3 separate regions of the Homo sapiens genome follow, and regions 1 and 3 are each linked to region 2. Evidence: fine-mapped expression QTL. A gene starts in region 2. Each other region holds a variant in brackets. All regions are shown on one strand. Distances are from middle to middle. Region 1 overlaps SLC38A10 (solute carrier family 38 member 10). Region 2 holds the start of NDUFAF8 (NADH:ubiquinone oxidoreductase complex assembly factor 8). Region 3 overlaps CEP131 (centrosomal protein 131).

Region 1 (6,788 bases), 44 kb after region 2:
AGGGATGTCCCTGCTGGGGAGAATGTCAGGTGAATCCGTGGGCCTGCACATCCTCAGGGCGGGACAGAAGGAAAGCTGCACTTGTTGAGCCGCACGCTCCAGCGCTTCAACCCAGCACCTGACTCCGGAACCAGACCCGAACGAGGTGCACCGGCTGCTACGTGGCCACCACCAAAAAGCCCCAGCTGCAGATTTATTTCTAAATATGCAAACACGCAGACACAAAGGGCAACTGGTAACTAGGTACGTGGCGGAAGAATGCGGCTTCTGTCACCGATCATAATGGGATATTAAACAGCAAGACTGGGGCGCGTTCTGGTGGAGATGGAGCTGCCAAGAGAGACGCTAAGTGGGAAATGACGATTTGGATCTCGCATGTGGGTGTAAACACAGCGGTATGAACAAATTTCATCTGTCACATTAGTTTACGATTGGCTCAATGCATGCCCACTAACGCTACAGGGGCCGCTCTGCCAGCCCCCCGCATGCCGATGGTCTTTTCCCGTCTGCGCCGGATTTACGCCTCTCTTTTCAGCCGGTTACCATGTTCCAACCGGGCACGAATCACTCGCTCTTGTCATTTTGGTGGAGAAGGTAATGCTGCTGGAATTATGGAAGAGCCCGATCCACATTTACAGAGCCCTGCGTGCCAGAGAGAAAGCAGGCTCGCGCGCACATGCAGGCCTCCAAATGCATCCAGCAGCCGTCTGAAGTCAATGTTTGTGCCATTTCCTTTTAAATATTCTCAGAACAGCTAAATTCTGGCGAAGCGCTCGACTCTGTGCAGTCAGATGGCTGGGTTGCTGCTGCATCCCCCACAGCCAATGCTCTGCTTGTGGGGATCTGGCAAACCAGGGACTCTCACCAGCTAGTCCCAAACATGTCCCAGGAATGAAGCCGATTTACCTCCCGATTAAAATATAACTATCTCCCTCAACCTGGGGCGGGAAAGGTCATCACTGAACAAGACATCACTCTTTAGCAGCCAGCAAAGAGCGATCACAGTAAACGAGAAAGAGAGGGTCCCGTCTCCCAGCAGCTCGCCCTCCCCGTCACAGAACTCCACCACAGACCACAGCAGGACACTTACGACTGGCAGGCGAAGGACATGCCGAAGATGGGGATGCAGCGGAAGACGCCCTCCCAGCGGACGTAGCTGACCCGCCGCAGCCACTGCCCACTGAAGAGGCCGTGCTTGAGAGAGGAGAGCACGATCTGCAGAGGGAGAGGGGAGAGAGCACGGGGCAGGTCAGGACGCAGGCGGGACTCAGCATCCCGGCCCACGCGCCGCTAGGAAGGAGTGGCAGGAGAGTGCAGCTCTTCCCACCCACATCCCAGCCCCCCACCACCCTGTGCCGCCCTGTGCCGCCTTGTGCCGCCAGCTGGAGGCAGGGAGACCCCGCGCCTTTCTGGATTCCCAACCCCTGCCTCAGAGCACCCTGGTTCATCCCGCGGGCACCAGAGCAGCTGCTCTTGCAAGGGGGCTGCTTGGCGCAGACGGGAGGAGACCACTGAGCATGCATGGCCCCAGTTTCCGTCGGTTACAGAGGCTGGTTTCCCACGTGGGCAGGTCCCTCCCCATCTTGTACTGTGTTAGACATGGACATTTTCCAAAAGACTGGCCCACCAGGACGCGGCTGTCTCAAGAGTAAAGAGGTAGCTGCCACTGGGCTGGCCCTCACTCGGAGAGCTGAGGAGCACTGGAGACCCTGGCTTCAATGACCACCTGGCCTCGTCCTGGTGCAAACCCGCTGTGAGACACCCAGGTTCCAGCCACTCAGGAAGGGTCATTTCTGACCTTGCCAGGGAACAGGAAGGTCCCAGGGGCTCGGGTCCTGGGGCTCCTATGGGCAGGGGCCTGGCAGAGAATGGAGGGTGTGCTGGGGGCTCTGGGTGGTATCCGTGTTCTCAGTGCCAACTCCACAGCTGGCCCCTAGTCCATCCTATTATAAATTCTCATTTAGAAAAATAATAGCGGCCGGGCGTGGTGGCTCATGCCTGTAACCCCAGCACTTTGGGAGGCTGAGGCGGGTGGGTAACAAGGTCAGGAGTTCGAGACCAGCCTGGCCAAGATGGTGAAACCCCTTCTCTACTAAAAATAAAAAAAATTAGCCAGGTGTGGTGGCGGGCACCTGTAATCCCCGCTACTTGGGAGGCTGAGGCAGGAGAATCACTTGAACCCAGGAGATGGAGGTTGCAGTGAGCCGAGATTGCGCCACTGCACTCCAGCCTGGGCGACAAAGTGAGACTCCGTCTCAAAAAACAAACAAACAAACAAACAACAATAGCTTGCCACCTTGTGTCAAAACACTGGCACCGTGAGCCTTGGTCACAAACCCTACATAAGACATCTTTGCATAAAGCAAGTGGACTTGGAGTTTCCTTCACCTTGCCTGGACGACATGAAACCAGCCTCAGAGCCACCCCTGCCCTGAGCCCCAGCCTCTCCTGCCAGCCAACCGCACCTGGGTCCAGCCAGCCCCGTCTGCCCCATGGTGCCCAGGGACCATGAGATGAATGGCACTTCCTGGTACATCCTGCTACTTCCAACACATTCCCAGGAGGCAGCAGGCGGCCACACCAGACCTGGGCACGAGCCTGCTGTGGCCACAGGAAAGAATGGGCCAGGAGCAGCCTTTCAGCGGGTACCCACGCGCGCTGCCGACTCACCACGAACATGAACACGGTGTAGAAGAGGAGGGCCATGGCGCTGAAGGACTGGATGGAGGCCATCATGTTCCGCTGCAGGCTGAGCGGGAGCACGATGCACAGCGACACGGCGAACAGCAGGAACATGCGGAAGGTGCCGCCCACCTGCGGGGAGCCGGCAGGGGGTCTTGGCCACAGCCCGTGCCTGCTCACCACCGGGCTCTCTGCACTGACAGGGAGTGGGAGCGCCCCGAGCCCGAAAGCCGACGGCATCCAGGTGAATGACGCC[G/A]GCGGGTCTGAGGCTGGCACACTCGCCCGAAGCCGCTCTCACAGCCACTGTGCCGTGTGCAGCCTCGGACACTGGGTATTTCCCCTCCCTGGAGCCCAGCCCAGCCCCACAGCGAGACCAGCCAGAGCAGGACAGCAGCCCCCCTAACACGGGAGGCAACACAGTGGCTGTGAGTCGGACTCAGCTGCCCTGGGCGAGGGGTGGGAAAGGTGCAGACTGCCCTGTGGGCAGGACGGGCCCAAAGCTCTAGCTACAAAGGCCACTACGAAGCACGGAAAACGGAAGGTCGAATGGGGAGACAGAGTAGGGGACCTAGCTCCCTGGATGCTCCTTGGAACTGTCTCTGACAAGGAGCGAATCTGGTACATTCCACTCCTGGAGAGGACACCCCCGCCTCAGTGGCCTTTGAAAGCCTTTCTACGCTGTTAGCACCCTAACGTGCCGTGATGCCTGCCCTGCCCAGTGAGGGGCTCTGCTCCCCGGCAGCGAGGGAAAGGTGTGTGGGCCCGTCAGGTGGGCCTCTCTGTGGTGGGGGGCAAGCACGGAGGAGGCTACCCCAAGGTCCCTGCAAGAAGTGCTGAGTCCACAGCCCCCAGAAGCTCTGGGTGACCATGGAGGCCGGGGATGCCTGAGGGCCTGGCCGCCTCTGCCCTCCAATGGGCAGCCCGGGCTGGCAGAGACTTGCTCTGCACTGTGCCCGGGTCTGAGGCTCCCCCACCCGCCCCTCATCTACATGGTGTCAGACTCTGCCTGGCTTGCTTCCTCGCGTGTACCTCTCACAGACGTGACCCAGCAAAGCCCCCGCACTCCACCAAGCCCCTAGAATGACAGCAGGCTCGACAGAAGCTTCTCCCGACCAGCACCCAGGTCTCGGTCCTCGGGAGGATCCCACAGAGGGCCTCAGAGCAGCCGTCAGCATCTGAACAACCCAGAACCCTGAACACATCCTTACCTGAAACCCGAACAGCCGGGCAAAGAAGTTGGACCCCAAGTCGCCGATCACGACGTAGAAGGCGATGCAGGTGCCCAGCATCAGCCCGATCATGCTGCACAGGGACGGGGGGTACGGGAAATGCCATCAGGGCAAGCTGGCACACACCTGGGCTGCCGCCAGGGACTACCCCAAGGCTGGGCTGAATGACAGATGTGATTTCTTTTTTCTTTTTTTTTTTTTTGAAACAGAGTCTCACTCTGTCGCCCAGGCTGGAGTGCAATGGTGAGATCTCGGCTCACTGCAAGCTCCGCCTCCCAGGTTCACGCCATTCTCCTGCCTCAGCCTCCCGAGTAGCTGGGAGTAGCCGAGTAGCCACGCCCGGCTAATTGTTTGTATTTTTAGTAGAGACGGGGTTGCACCGTGTTAGCCAGGATGGTCTCGATCTCCTGACCTCTGTGATCCGCCTGCCTCAGCCTCCCAAAGTGCTGGGATTACAGGCGTGAGCCACTGTGCCTGGCCAACAGATGTGATTTCAAACGCGCCCCAGTTCACAGGGCGCGGGCAGGTTCTGTGGCGCTCGCTATGTCACTTGGCATGCACACCAAACGACACTCAGCTTTTCTCAGCCTGGTATTATACTCGCCCCTCTGCGGAGGCTCTAAAAGTTACAAAAATCTCCATGATGGGCCTGGCACAGTGGCTCACGCCTGTAATCTCAGCACTTTGGGAGGCCGAGGCAGGCGGATCACCTGAGATCCGGAGTTCAAAACCAGCCTGGCCAACACGGCAAAACCCTGTCTCTACTAAAAATACAAAAATTAGCTGGGCCTGGTGGCACGCGCCTGTAATCTCAGCTACTTCGGAGGCTGAGGCAGGAGAATCGCTTAAACCTGGGAGGTTGCAGTGAGCCGAGATCACAGCATTGCACTCCAGCCTGGGTGACAGAGCAAAACTCCATCTCAAAAAATAAAAAAATTGAAAAAGCCCCACGATGTTAGTCAAGTTAAGAGAACAATCAACTGCTTTCAAAAAAGGCTGTTCGTTTGAGTTTACAATTCCCTAATTTAGAAGCCTAGAAGTGCAATCTCCCAGCGATTTTTTCATCTCATAAATTTTTTCATCTCATGAAATTTTATGCCAAAGGAAGAAAAATATGACATTTGCAATGTAATGCCACCTTTATGCAGCGGTGTTTGAGGGGTAGGTGAGGTGCTGAGGAATGGTGTTGAGAGACTACAACTGAGGGAGGACTGTTTACCAGGTTCTTGGAGTTTTCCATACATAAATTTTTCTTACAACACTGAAGGGTACAAGTAATTGGACTTTCATGTATTTAGCGACTCTTCAGAAACCTAAGTTACAGGTGAATCTGGGGATGAAACTGCCGCTCCCACCGGGAGGGTCCCCAGTGTCTGGGTGCGGGGGTGGGGGGCAAGCGCAGCGGCAGGGCGGGGCTTACCTGGTCTCCACCAGCATCTTGCCTGCCTTCCCGTAGGCGTGGAATGCTAGTGCAAAAGAAAAAGGAACACTCAATCCAACAGCGTGAGAAGCTCGTCCAGAACAAAGGTACTGAGCCAAGCTGTCAAGGGCGATTTCACAGAAACCCACGGGCCCAGATTCTCCGGGGCATGAGGGGTATTTCAAATTCTGGCTGCCAGGTTATTTTTGGATCTACTGTCTGCAAATGAAACTACAAGAAACAAAGACAGAGCAAGGGAAGGACAGGAGGCAGGTTCTTCTTTCACTCAATCAGATTTTTTAACAGACAAAGAGACAAGTCCCTGCGATGCAGTCCTCCCACCCGGTGACCACTGGGGGCCGGCTGGAAACAGCATCCCACAGCCCAGCACGGCCGAACCCCGTGCTGCTGGCCAGAGCTTGCAGGTCCCCAGAGGGTTCAGTGCCGGTCCCAGGTACCCGAGCGCCACAGCCTGCACCAGAGGGACTCTGACGGAGGGCTTTCATTTTCACCCTTTGGTTGGGATTTATAGAAACAAATGGAGACTCCTTTCGAGCATGGTGCTTCAGGAAGGGAGGGGACGAGAGCCCTGGGCTTGTGGTGTCCACGTGGACAGCTAATGAGGAGCCTTGCCGATGAGGAGCATGCGTTCCCGACGGGGCGGCCGAATGCGGAAGGAGCCGCCATTCTCTCCGCCCTGACCGCGGGATTCTCTGCAGCAGATGAGAAACGGCGCTGACTCAGCAGGGTCCCTCCCAGGCCCCGAGCGGTCATCTGGTGACCCCCGCGCTTCCCCCACGGCCCAGCCGGAGAAGGGCAAAGGGAAGTCCCGGCTCCAAGGCGCACCCAGAGATGCGGTGCATGTGGCAGGATGGCCCAGCCCCGTCGGCAGCCCCAGCTTCCTGCCCCTGGTTTCCTTCCTCCCACGGGCTACAGGCCTCTGATGAGCTTTGGAAAGCAGGAAACACACAGGCTAGTAACTATGAATGGGTCCAAAAAACACTCCTTATTACTTTAAACTACTTAGGAAGAAGCACAGCGTTGCCAAACGCCAGAGCCCGGGAGCAGCAAAGACCCCACCTCCAGGGCTCACCCTGGCCTTTCCTGGACCTGCCTATGGGCTCGCTGAAGAAGCCTGGCACCCCTTGAGTTCATCCCACAACACGGAAACCCGAGCCAGGCCCCAGAAGCTGACCTGAGGCTGTGGAGAGTTTCAAACACTAAGAACTCCAGGAGCCCCCTCAGCAGCCCACAGCCCAGGGCCCTGCTGTCACCAAGGAACGCCCTCCACACCCCTCAGTGACGGCACAGCCCGGAAGCAACAAAACACGGCGCTCCAAACATGAAGTTGCTCCTGGCCATAATGTGCCTTTTCATTCTCCAAAAGGAAGCTGAGTCTCTACAGCATATTCCAAACACGAGCGCACCTTGCCCAAGAAGGTTCCGGAATATGCCTG
Region 2 (5,859 bases):
GACGCATAGGAGGCACGGAGGACCCAGCGGAGGGAGGGGGCAGGGCGCGTCAGGGGAGGCCGAGCCGGCCAGCTGGGGTGAGGGTGGGCAGCAGGTGGAGAGGCCAGAGATGGGCCAGGATCAGCAAGGCGGGGCTTTGATCGGGACCCGGCCCAGGTGAGGGCTCTGGCTGAAGTCTTCCTTCTCAAACCTGGAGGATCCGCCACCCTCCCCCATTCTCCAAAGCCCTGGCTCTTCCTGAGCGCGTGCGCGGCCCCTGTACCTGCAGCTTCCTGGATGAAGGCAGAGTTGCGTTTGAGGATGAGCAGGAAGAAGGAGGAGCCGTGGCTGCACAGATAGAGCAGGATCTTCAGCACCTGGGGAGTGGGGCGGTCAGCAGTGCTGGGCAGGCCGGACACGGGACACCCAGGGCAGGGCCCGGGGGCACCCCAAGGGCACAGAGCTGCCTGCCACCCTGGGCCGCTCGTCTGCTCCTCCATCCTCACCACCGTGGGCCGGGCCTCAGGCCTGACCCTTGACCACCCAGGGGCTCACCTTGAGCTTCCCGTGGCCGGAGCTGCTGTGCAGGCGGCTCAGGAGGTACTCCAGCAGGCACTGGCTGCTGCCCGGAGACTCGTGGGAGATTTCTGCGGCACGCTCGGGTTAGGGAAGGGCGAGATGATGAGGGCTGCGCCAGGCCGCAGGGAGACCAGGCCATGGGGCCTCTCAGTTCACGCTCCCTGGAGGCGCCTACTGGAGGCTCTGCCATCAGGAGCACCTGGGCTTCTAGGGTCCCCTGTGTCATCAGTATTGCAGCCTTCAGACCCCACCCATGCCTGGTTACAATAATAAAGGAGCCGTGCATCCCCCTAGGGACAGCAGAATCCCCAGGAACCCTTTGCACCACTCTGGGACCCTGCCATCCGCTCTTTCCACTACACGGGGACATCAAGGAAGGATACTAGCAATCTCTTCAAACAGGTAGCCCGGACACGGGACATCATCATCGGACGTCCCCTTCAGGAGAATCGGGAGCTGAAAGGGAACAAGAGCCCCTACCATGATGAGGTGCCATTTCCCACAGGGGTGAATCCGCAGCCCCCCAAAGGGGATGGAAACGACCCACCTCTCACTGTTGACATGGCCGGAGAGAGGACTGGGAAGGGATGAGAACTGTGCTACTGGCCACAGGGAGGCTGCAGCAGGGTCCTCTCTCAACAGTCAGGGATGAACAGCCTCGGAGAAGAGGCAAATCAATGGTGGTTCTCCACGGAGGAGCTGCGCCACTTGGGTTAAGAAGGGACACAGCCCCCAGCCTCCCTGCACTTACCAGCATGTAAGGCTATTTGAAGGTACCTCTCCTGTACCTACCTACTGACTAGCAAAGCCAAACAAGGCCCAGGCAAGCCCCTTTTCCACACAGGGGACTATGAATCGTTCCACCTCCCCAGAGGCCGGAATGGCAGAGTGACAGCCGCTCAGCGTGACTAGCTCCATCGCTCCCCGAGAACCGACTGATGTCGTGTGTTTTACGTTCGCTTAGCGCAGACGTACTTATTTGTTTCATGCTTACTTACTGGCACAAAGATGTACGGTTTATAGGGATGAAAACTGGAACCACCCATTCTTGCATTATTCAGTATCAGGACAGAATAGAGTTCAAGAGTATTTAACAGGACAAGCATGGGACCCACCGCGTGAGGTGCCGAAGCCTTTCGGTCGGAAGGGCCGAGATCTAGTGACAACATACGAAAACGTGGACCTGAAGTGTTTCCCGAGGCTGTGGACACGCATCACTGACACTGTTTGCCCACCACGCCCTAAGGGGAGCTGCTGAGGTTTGCAGGTGACAGCTGACAACTGCAGAACGCAGCACAGAACGACTATGTCGAAACCTTGCACTGAGAGCCTTGACCAACCCTAGCGTGGCTTCTGGCAGCCCAAGGTCGCGCCCTGGGACCACCCAGCCCCCTCTGAGGTCCAGCCCAGGAAAGCTCAGGGCTGACAAAAGAGGGCAGTTTGCTCAGGACGACACCTGGGAACTCGCCCCGGCCTCTACTTCTCAGAGGGTTTACTAAGAGGGGCTTACAATGGTGCGTCCTTCTCTGTCCCTTCGAGACGTCTGTGTTCTCTGCAACCCAGGGGTGCCTCTCCAGGACCGGAGTCCTCTGAAACGCCACCGTCAGGGAGGACGGCGGGCTGCCAGCCCACCTGGGCGCCAGCAGCACGGACACAGCGGCTCCACGTCCACCGGGTCCGCCGCTCCTTCCCTCCCGTCGGAGGCCACTGAATGCTGGCCGAGGCCTGTTCGTTCCCCCAGGGTCTGGCTGTGCCCATCGCCCTTGCGCTCGGCGGGTCCGGCTTGGAAGGCCCGGCTTGGAAGGCCCCGGGACGGCGCGGCGGGCGGGCAGCTCAGGGGCGTCGGCGCGGGCGAAGGGGCCAGGAGCAGCTACCCGGCGCGGAGACGCAAGGTCAATGGCTCCGGCCCGGGGCGAGTCCGGGGAATGCGGCGCTCGAGAGGAGCCGTGGGACCGGGGCCCGGGCGGACCGCCCTCACTCACCCGGTGTAGAAAGCTCAGGCGGTCCCGTAGCGGCGGCGCGGCAGCCATGATCCAGGTCCCCTCCCGGTCTGCCCCGCTTCCGCCAGGCCCGGGCCCTCCAATCACTGCGCGGGTCTGGGTCCGCCGGCCAATCCCTCACGGTAGGGCGGGCCCTGAGGTTGGCTTCGTAAACAATTGGAGCCTAGGCCAATCCGAAGTCCCAGAGCACAGACAGACTAGGACAAGAGCCAATTGCGGGGGCTCGAGGCCAGGCAAAGCCTGGCCAATTAAGAAGTTCAGGAAAGGTTATGGGCGGAAGCGCCGACCTATCAAGCTGTTTGACACCGGAAGAGGACGGACCTAAGATGGCGGCCTCCAGGGGGCTGGGAATAGCCGCTCATGTCGGCTAACGGAGCGGTGTGGGGCCGCGTGCGAAGCCGCCTCCGCGCCTTCCCCGAGCGGCTGGCCGCCTGCGGGGCCGAGGTGAGGAGCCGCGGGCGGGCCAGTGCTGCGGGGCAGGAGGAGCCGCGCGGGGAGGTGGCTGGGAGGGAGGACGGTGACGGGGTCAGGGGACCCCACGACCCACGCCCGTCCTTTCCGCAGGCCGCGGCGTACGGCAGGTGCGTGCAGGCCTCCACGGCCCCGGGCGGCCGCCTGAGTAAGGACTTCTGCGCGCGGGAGTTCGAGGCCCTGCGGAGCTGCTTCGCCGCTGCGGTAGGTGGGCGCGGGCCCCTTCCCCCCTTCCCAGCCCTTCCCCTCCAAGAGCCAGCGGGCCCCGGCTTTCCTTTGCTTTCCCGTTGGTTCAAGGTTTGAGCGCCTGCCGCGTGCTTTAGACGCCGGCTGACAAAATCACCGAGCCATCGACGAGCCCGCGAAACCTCGGCCGTCCTGGGCTTGTCCCTGCATGTTTGTAAAGCGGGACTGGCACCAACCTCAGAAAGGATGGGAGATGTGTGCAAAAAAGCGCCTTGTAAAACGCGTAAGCTTTCGTGTTAGCACTGCCGCCGGGGGGTGTCATGCCAGGATTGACCCAACACAGGACTCCCGGAAAGTGCCCAGCACCTTCCGGGTCTTCACCTCCCTGGCACTTGCAGCCCCTGTGCACCTGCAGTGGTGGATTCCTTCAGCACGTGTCCTGCGGGGAACCCCCAGCCACCCTCACAACTGGCACGATAGGGCTTCTTGCCCGTGGGGCTTTAAGTCATTCTGAGGCTGGTTCCCTAAGTGTCAGCCGCACCGGGTACCACCTCAGTGTATCTGGGTAGGCCTTGATGCCAGTGCTGACTCTGTTTACTGGGAGCTGTTAATCCGGAGATTTGGACCAGAGAAAGGGTATTTGAACAAGAGTTCCACGGCCTTCATCCCTACCCGGCCCCAGCAGCCTTGGATCCAGGGGTGGACAACTCATCAGAAGTTGCACTTTTTGCTGGGTGTGGTGGCGCGTGCCTGTAATCCTACCGCTTTGGGAGGCTGAGGTGGGTGGATTGCTTAGGCCTAGAAGTTTGAGACCAGCCTGGGCAACATATGGAGACCCCGTCTCTACAAAAAAAAAGAAAAAAAAAATTAGCCAGGCATGGTGGTGTAGTCCCAGTTACTTGGGAGGCTGAGGTGGGAAGATCACTTGAACCTGGGAGGTGGAGGTTGCAGTGAGCCGAGATCACGCTGCTGTACTCCAGCCTAGGCAACAAAGTGAGACTGCATCTCAAAAAAAAAAAAAGGGGGGGGGCTCCTGCTTTCCCTCTATGAGAGCTTGAGACCAAATGTGGCATCTCGTGGGGGCTCAGAGGAGGGGGCAGCAGTGAGTTCTGTGATAGTGTCATGAGGCCCTTGTCCCGTGGACAAGTGACCCAGAGAACCTGCCCATGGGGCCCCAGGCTCCAACCAGTCGAGCCCCCACCATATGCCAGCACCCAAGTTCTCTGTAAGGTATTTGGTAGAACACAACGTGTGGTGTGGTAGCTTGCTTTTGAGGCGTATCTAACTTGGAAGCAAGCCATTCAGACAAAACACTTTATCTTGCAGGCCAAGAAGACGCTGGAGGGAGGCTGTTAGGAGGGACTCTGAGCTTCACACCTGTCTGCTGCCATGGGTGCAGAGCCCTAGTCCTGATGGCCCCTGGTGGCACATATCGAATGCCTAGGGCAGAAAGGAAGTGGGAATGGCGAAGATGTGACATTCCTCGGTGTTAGATCCTGTTTTTTCTTAACAAGTTGAGGCGTGGGTAGAGCAGGAATTGGTTTTCCAGCATTGTGTCCGTAAACCTGAGTTAGAATAAGATGTAACGGAAGCCACGATAAAGACTCGGTCAAATCCTGCAGCCTGGGGCTTACTGTGTGCAGACTGCAACATGTGGGTCTTGGCCTCTCTGAGATGGAATGGGGCCCAGAGCCTTTCCCCCAAAGCTGGCAGGGCTGGGACTTGGGGACACCCTGCCTCAAGGTCCCCGTTTTAAAACACTCTCACTAAGGTATTTAATGTGAATCTGGTGAAGCCTGCAGACCTTGCTGTGGGTATACAGCACACACCAAAGACAAGGACGTCAGCACCACGAGGGGACACTCCATGGGGCAGGGTCCTCGCAGGTGGCTTTCCTGGACACGGGGCAGGGCGGAGGCTCTTCACAAAAGGGCCTGAGTCTCCGAGAGGGGCCTGCGTAGAGCACCAGCAGCCAGTGCCCCTCCTGTGTGGGGTTGGTCGCCCCCTCGGCAGCCCAGGTACTTCACCGATGGCGCCTGCCCTCTCGTTCCCCCTCCCTATCACATCACTTGACCTAAAACTAAGGTGAGAAGGGCCACATCCTGACTCTGCCCGGGCACTTGTTGATGGTGAGACCCCGGAGTCCATGGGGCCTGAGCGCCACCTGCAGGGCGTGGCGGGGACTGCTTTGAGAGCCCCCCTGCTCCGGGGTGCAGAGGCTGCACTTTCCTGGGGCTGCAGCCTGCGCCTGCCCCCAGGCCCGTGCTAGCGGCTGACCCCGTGGGCTGAGGTCTGTTCCTCCATGTTTCCTCCTCCAGATGCTGCCCCAGAATTAACCTGGTTTCCCCTAAGGGTCTGATCTGGGTGGTGGGTCTGCAGGAGCCAGGCCAGAGTGCTGGATTTTGTCCCAAGGGCCAGGATAGTGTCACATCTTGGGAACCACGGAAATCCAGACCAGACTCCTGGGGTCAAGCCACCGCAGTCCATCCCTGTGCATGCCAGACTCAGATGCCCTGCGCTGGCACAAACCACCCGACCCGCCTCCCCAGCGTGCAGGGCCGGCTGCCCCCCACCCCTGCCTTCCTCCTTCTTGTGCCCAGCACTCATCCATGAGCGAGCCTCAGTGTGCAGACGTCCTTTTCTT
Region 3 (6,788 bases), 21 kb before region 2:
CCTATCAAAAAAAAAAATTTTTTTTGAGACGGAATCTCGCTCTGTCGCCCAGGGTGGAGTGCAGTGGCGCGATCTCGGCTCACTGCAAGTTCCGCCTCCTGGGTTCACGCCATTCTCCTGCCTCAGCCTCCCGAGTAGCCGCGACTACAGGTGCCTGCCACCACGCCCGGCTAATTTTTTTTTTTGTATTTTTAGTAGAGATGGGGTTTCACCGTGTTAGCCAGGATGGTCTCAATCTCCTGGCCTCGTGATCTGCTTGCCTCAACCTCCCAAAGTGCTGGGATTACAGGCATGAGCCACCGCGCCTGGCCAAAAATTTACAATTTAGTTTTAATTTTAATTTTAAAAGATAGAGTCTCACTCTGTTGCCCAGGCTGGAGAGCAGTGGCATGATCATAGCTCACTGCAGCCTCAAACTTTCTGGGTTCAAGCCATCCTCCTGCCCCAGCCTCCCATGTAGCTGGGACTACAGGCATGCACCACCACACTCGGCTAATTTTTTAATTTTTTTGTAGAGACAGGGGTCTCACTATGTTGCCCAGGCTGGTCTCAAACTCCTGGCCTCAAGTGATCCTCCCACCGCAGCCACGCAAAGTGCTGGGATTACAGATATTGGCCACCACTCCCGGCCCCCTTTCAAATTTTTTTATTTATTTAATTTTTTTTGAAATGGAGTCTCGCTGTCACCCAGGCTAGAGTGTGGTGGTGCGATCTTGGCTCACTGCAACCTCCAGCTTCCGGGTTAAATCAGTTCTCCTGCCTTAGCTTCCTGTGTAGCTGGCATTACAGGTGCCTGCCACCACGTCCAGCTATTTTTTCTATTTTTAGTAGAGACGAGGTTTCACCGTGTTGGCCAGGCTGGTCTCGAACTCCTGACCTCAAGCAATCTGCCCACCTCGGCGTCCCAAAGTGCTGGGATTACAGGCACGGGCCACCGCACCTGGCCCCCCTTTCAAAATTTTAAATGGACTTATGCTCTGACCCAGTAGTTATCCTTTAGGATTTATTCTACAGGCGTATTTACATGTATGCAAAATGGCAAAGACACAGGGTATTTGCTGTGCCACTCTTGGTACTATGATAAGGAAAATCCAGAGGAGCACTGGGTGAAGTTCTGGTGCATCATCTGATGAACTATTGTCAGCTGCTACAAAACAATGTAAGGAAAGCGGGAGCAGGGTCAGGTGCAGCGGCCCACACCCGTAATCCCAGCACTTTGGGAGGCCGAGGTGGGAGGATCGCTTCAGCCCAGGAGTTAAGGACCAGCAACCTAGTGAGACCCCTGTCCCTACAAAAAAATTAAAAATTAGTAGGCTGGGTGTGGTGGCTCACACCTGTAATCCCAGCACTTCGGGAGGCTGAGGCAGGAGGATCACCTGAGGTCAAGAGTTCAAGACCAGCCTGACCAACATGGCGAAACCCCGTCGCTACTAAAAATACAAAATTAGCCGGGCATGGTGGTGCATGCCTGTAATCCCAGCTTCTTGGGAGGCAGAGGCAGGAGAATCCCTTGAACCCGGGAGGCAGAGGCTGCAGTGAGCCGAGATCTCACAAATGCACTCCAGCCTGGGCAAAAAGAGCAAAAGTCTGTCTCAAAAGAAAAAAAAAATTAAAAATTAGCTGGGCAGGGTGGTGAGCACCTGTAATCCATGCTACTCAGGATGCTGAGGTAAGAGGATCACTTGTGTCCGGGAGGTGGAGGCTGCAGTAAGCTGTGGTTTCTCCACTGCACTCCAGCCTGGGCAACAGAGCAAGACCCCGTCTTAAAAAGAAAAAGAAAAGAGAATGCAGGAGCCCCACGCAGCTGACGGATACGGCACTTGTTCCAACACATCTCCAGCATCACTGATGCCTGTGTGCCCAGAGTAAGTGTGGGTGCAGGAGAAACAGAACAGTGGCCGCCTAGGAGAGGCCCGCAAGGTCGGGCAGGACAGGCTCACTGCTCAATGAGCCCCCTTTTCCCAAATGGTGGGTGTGAATGGCCTATTCAAAACACATGGTAGGAATTTTGAAATCATCCCCCAAAATGGCACCAGTCATTGCATCAGGGCCATGGGATTATGGGTGCCCTTCATCCTGTCTCCATTTTCCTGGGGTCAGTTTCGCAGCCTCCAAGAGGAAGATAAGGGATGTCAGGGGAGGGATGAAGGGGCTGCCACTCACTGACGGACACCACGGTGGAAAGGCACCACTCATGCTCAGATGGTAAATCAAGTCATGGACTAAAAACCCTAAACTCCACCTGCAAGAAGGAGGCAACATCGCCCAGGGAGGGGCAGGTGGCCCCCATGGCCATGACACATATGCACAGTGATGTCTGTTCCCCAGTGAGCTTGTGCTCTTGGGATTTAAAGACCTCTTTTCTTTAAGGGGAAGGGAACCAGAGTGAATAATGATCTAGGGGGCTAGAGGATCAGGTGGGCACACAGCTGGGGCAAGGAAGAGGGACCCTCTACAGTCTGGCACCGACATCTCTTGAGCCAGAAGACCAGCAGGAACTGCAGTTACATCCTGGATGGGGAATCCCGGGACAGCAGGCCGTGGACGCAGGAAGATCTTTAGAGACAAGGGGTAGAGTGGAAACCCCAGGCCAATGGCCACCGAGAAGGTCTCCGAGCCAGGGGACAGCACCCCACCCCACCCACAAACACCAGGAGGAAGAGAATCACGTGCCGCCTTGTACAGGTGTGAAGCCATGCCTGGCCAAAACAAATGCTCTCCAGGAATCCCGATGAGACTGAGTGGTAGCAGGGCAGGTGGCCGAGAGGATGGGGACCGGGCACAACAGAAACCCCTGAGGTCACGTCACACACTGGCGGGGGTTCCTCTTCCACCAGCAGTTCCCGAGCTCCCACCATGGGCACAACAGAAGGCAGACAGGCATGCAGGGGTGGGGCCGTCTCGGATCGAGCGAGGGCCTCAAAGAATTGAAGTGAACAGCTGGAACATTCCATGAACGAGGGGACTGTTAGCAGTCGCCACTCAACACTGCGGGAGCGGGCAATGGTACCAGCCGAGGAAAGGAGGGATCGATATGAGTAGCGCTCGCTGTGGCTTTGAACCTCTACTCAGCAACAGAACATTTCCCAGCAGAAAGGCTGGGAGTGTGGTTAGGTGCCTGGGTCGGCCGCGGATAGAGCCTGGCCATGCCGCCGAAAGACCATCTACTAGAAAGCCCGGAAACTTTTACAACAGTCTCCACACAACAAGAGAGCTGCAATTTCTTTCTTTCTCCTTCTCCCTCTCCCTCTCCCTCCCCCTCCCCCTCCCTCTTTCTTTCTTTCTTTCTTTTTTTGAGACAGAGTCTTGCTCTTTCGCCCAGGCTGGAGTACAGTGGCATGATCTCGGCTCACTGCAGCCTCCTCCGCCCGGGTTCAAGCAACTCTCCTGTCTCAGCCTCCTGAGTAGCTGGGATTAAGGGTGCGCGCCACCACGCCCGGCTAATTTTTGCATTTTCAGTAGAGGCAGGGTTTCACTATGTTGGCCAGGCTGGTATTGAACTCCTGACCTCAGGTGATCCACCCGCCTCAACCTCCCAAAGTGCTGGGATCACGGGCGTGAGCCACCTCGCCCAGC[C/T]CAGATCTGCGATTTCGAGTGCGTCTTCCCCGCCCCATGTGCCATGAACCTAGGGCTTTAGAAACAGCGGGAGGGGCCAAGGCAGGTGGGCGAGGGGGTCAGTGACGCAGGAGCAGGGCTGCGGACAGGAGAGGCAGCAGGCTCAGAGACGGCTCTAGCCCAAGCTGGTTACCCCTCTGCTAAAACAGTGCAGCATATTTTTATTTTCACAGCTTACGTCTGTAAATGCCTAGAGGCGTACCACATCTTTAGACAACCTGCCGGCCACAATGACACATCAGGACATCCCGGGTCCCCGCCCTGCTGGCCCAGGCTTTGGGAACCTGCTTGGTCCAAGGGTCCGCTACTGGCCCGGCTGCCCTTACCCCGGAACTCGGCTAGCCGTCTGGCGGGCCACACCCTGCCCACCTGGGGGTGCTTCTAGGGCAGACACAGGAATAACTTTTTCAAGGAGAAGGGGGAGGTCCAAGCCTTTTATTCACAGTGGAACCCTGGCCTGGGCCTGCCAGGGGTTCCTGTGGGAAGCCTCAACTGCCCTCCAGACCCCTTCTCTCTGCCCTGCTATGTTGCCTGGCACGGACCTCAGGCAGGGAGCCCCAGACCGGCTGCCGCATGGAAGCCAAGGCCCCCAGGCCCTTGCTATTCGGAAGCTCAGGCCAGACTCTGGTCAGGCTCTGCCCCAACCCCCACAGAGCGGCTCGATTCCTCCCTTGCCCCAAAGACTGGGCCTGGCAGACACCAACTCAGGGTGCAGCAGGCCCGGCCTGCCTTTCACAGCCCCCATCTGGGAACCACCCACCCTCCTCCCTACTCCCAGAGGTGGGCAGGAAAGGCAGCTCTCACCCCGAAGCTCCCACGGCTGTCCTGCTGCCCACACACCCACACACCCGTCTAGGTTTCTCCAAGGCCACCAGGAGCTCATCACCCCTCCCCACAGGTCAACCCCATTTCTTTCTTTTTTTTTTTTTTTTGAGATGGCATCTCACTCTGTCGCCAGGCTGGAGTGCAACGGCACGATCTCGGCTCACCGCAACCTCTGCCTCCTGGGTTCGAGCAAATCTCCTGCCTCAGCCTCCCGAGTAGCTAGGATTACAGGCATGCACCACCATGCCCGGCTAATTTTTTTTTGTATCTTTAGTAGAGACGGAGTTTCACCATGTTGGTCAGGCTGGTCTTGAACTGCTGACCTCAGATGACCCGCCTGCCTCGGCCTCCCAAAGTGCTGAGATTACAGGCGTGAGCCACCGAGCCCAGCCAACCCCATTTCCTGAGGATTCAAACAAATCCAAAGGGCGGTGGCACAGGAGGCCTGGGGCTGTTGCTGAAAGAATCCAAGCTCTGGCTTGACTTTCTAGTGATTCAGCACCCACGCCTGTAAGACTCAAGTCCTACCTGCCTCCTGGAACAGCCACGAGGATCCAGCATGTCCAGATGTGAGGCACTTGTTCACCTGTGGAGCTGGACCCAGGGGTCAGATGCCAACTGAACAACAGCCCTCCAGGAGGCAGGGGCCCGGACTCCTAGGCCACAGTACTCACCAGCACCTTCCTCTTCTGCTCGCTGCCTGTGACCACGGAGACAGAGCGGACGATGGGCTTGGTGGTGGCGGCACTGCCAGGACGCCGGGACACAGGCGGAGGGAGACCTGTCAGACTCAGGTCCACACCTGCTGGGCTGCGCTCCGGGACGCTGCCGATGGCCCGGGTGCCTTTCATGGTGGACAAGGCAGGTCCTGAGCGGGGAAGCAAGAGCTGCAATGAGATGCCGTGGGGGAACTACAGTCCCCTGCACCCACCATCTCCAGCCCAGCCTCAGCTGGGTCCACTGGCCACCAAACTTCCTGGGAAGGCCTGTCACAACCTATGCACCCCTCTGGCTGGTGGCAGGCTCCTCGACAGGAACATGAGGGAGCTGTTCTGAGCCCAATGTCAGTGTATGCCAGGGCAGGAGGGCCCTGGATGATGGACAGGTGGGTGGCGAGGGCAAGGCCCGTGGGTGGGAATAAGCCAGCAGCACCCCAGAGGGAGCCTGGGCCACAGGCCATTGTCGATGTGAGCCAGGTTCTGCCATCTACCCCACACCGTGATTCTGAGAAAGTCACTGCCCCGAGCCCCACTGTTTTCTTCTGTAAAAGGGACATTTGATTTATTTTTTATTTTATTATGTTTTTGAAACAGAGTCTCGTTCTTGTCACCCAGGCTGGAGTGCAGTGGCGCGATCTCGGCTCATTGCCACCTCTGCCTCCCGGGTTCAAGCGATTCTCCTGCCTCAGCCTCCTGAGTAGCTGGGATTACAGGTGCCCGCCACCACGCCTGGCTAATTTTTGTATTTTTAGTAGAAGTAGAAACGGGGTTTTGCCATGTTGGCCAGGCTGGTCTCGAACTCCTGACCTCAGGTGATTCGCCTGCCTCGGCCTCCCAAAGTGCTGGGATTACAGGCATGAGCCACCGTACCCGGCCCCTAAGTAAAAATACACATTTTAAAAAGGGGTTGCGTGTTGGCCGGGCACAGTGGCTCACTCCTGTAATCCCAGCACTTTGGGAGACCAAGGCAGGCAGATTGCCTGAGCTCAGGAGTTCAAGACCAGCCTAAGCAACACAGTGAAACCCCACCTCTACTAAAAACTTCAAAAAATTAGCCGGGCGTGGTGGCGAGCGCCTGTAATCCCAACTACTTGGGAGGCTGAAGCAGGGGAATTACTTGAACCTGGTAGGCGGAGTTTACAGTGAGCCAAGATCGTGACACTGCACTCCAGCCTGGGCAACATAGCGAGACTCCATCTCAAAAAAAAAAAAAAAAAAAAAACGCGGGAGTGGTTTTGTGAGGTCCAGACAAGATGCTGGTCTCAAGGCCTCAAGGCTGCACCGGGCAAACACTCCCTGGGTAATGTGTTATTCCAGCAGGGGACGGGGGTTCTGACGATCGATCGAGGGGATTAGCTTGGGGATGCTGGCTTCCTTACTTTGGAACTTCTCAGAGCAAACCCTGCCGGCCCCCAGCCCGTCCCCACATGGCACCTCTTTCTGAACGAGTCTTTCTGATCTTTCTGAACGGGTCTCAGCTCGTGCATGTGCCCCTGCCAAAAACCCTGCAACAGCTTCCTAGGCACAGAGAATAAAGTCTACACATCCAACTCCTGCAAGATCTGGCCCTGTACTCTCTGTGACCTCGCCAGCTCCCCTGCTGTGCCCCTTTGTTGTGGCTTTAGCCAA

Evidence for each region. PIP is the estimated chance that this variant, and not a neighbour inherited with it, causes the effect.
Region 1: its variant is fine-mapped to the expression of NDUFAF8 in whole blood (INTERVAL, PIP above 0.99).
Region 3: its variant is fine-mapped to the expression of NDUFAF8 in thyroid (GTEx, PIP 0.98).

What each region holds. Positions count from the first base shown.
Region 1 is chr17:81,279,519-81,286,306 of GRCh38, forward strand. SLC38A10 (solute carrier family 38 member 10) reads right to left here. Exons shown (of 16, transcript NM_001037984.3): 3 at 5,332-5,377; 4 at 3,891-3,984; 5 at 2,671-2,814; 6 at 1,091-1,215. Among named protein-coding and RNA genes, the nearest start is that of SLC38A10, 12 kb to the right of the region's middle. RefSeq lists enhancers at 2,371-2,884, 5,975-6,304 and a silencer at 6,131-6,425. The variant G/A (reference allele first, on the strand shown) is at 2,939.
Region 2 is chr17:81,236,446-81,242,304 of GRCh38, forward strand. It overlaps NDUFAF8 (NADH:ubiquinone oxidoreductase complex assembly factor 8), which reads left to right and starts at 2,873. Exons shown (of 3, transcript NM_001086521.2): 1 at 2,873-3,002; 2 at 3,123-3,233; 3 at 4,542-4,865. The coding sequence starts at 2,919. The coding sequence ends at 4,571. It overlaps TEPSIN (TEPSIN adaptor related protein complex 4 accessory protein), which reads right to left and starts at 2,610. Exons shown (of 13, transcript NM_001363764.2): 1 at 2,541-2,610; 2 at 942-1,014; 3 at 535-626; 4 at 263-356. The coding sequence starts at 2,588. RefSeq lists enhancers at 1,934-2,516, 2,760-2,979, 3,360-3,439 and silencers at 2,300-2,389, 2,492-2,707, 2,950-3,099.
Region 3 is chr17:81,214,766-81,221,553 of GRCh38, forward strand. It overlaps CEP131 (centrosomal protein 131), which reads right to left. Exons shown (of 26, transcript NM_014984.4): 2 at 5,115-5,308. The coding sequence starts at 5,291. Among named protein-coding and RNA genes, the nearest start is that of CEP131, 4.8 kb to the right of the region's middle. RefSeq lists an enhancer at 6,561-6,788. The variant C/T (reference allele first, on the strand shown) is at 3,577.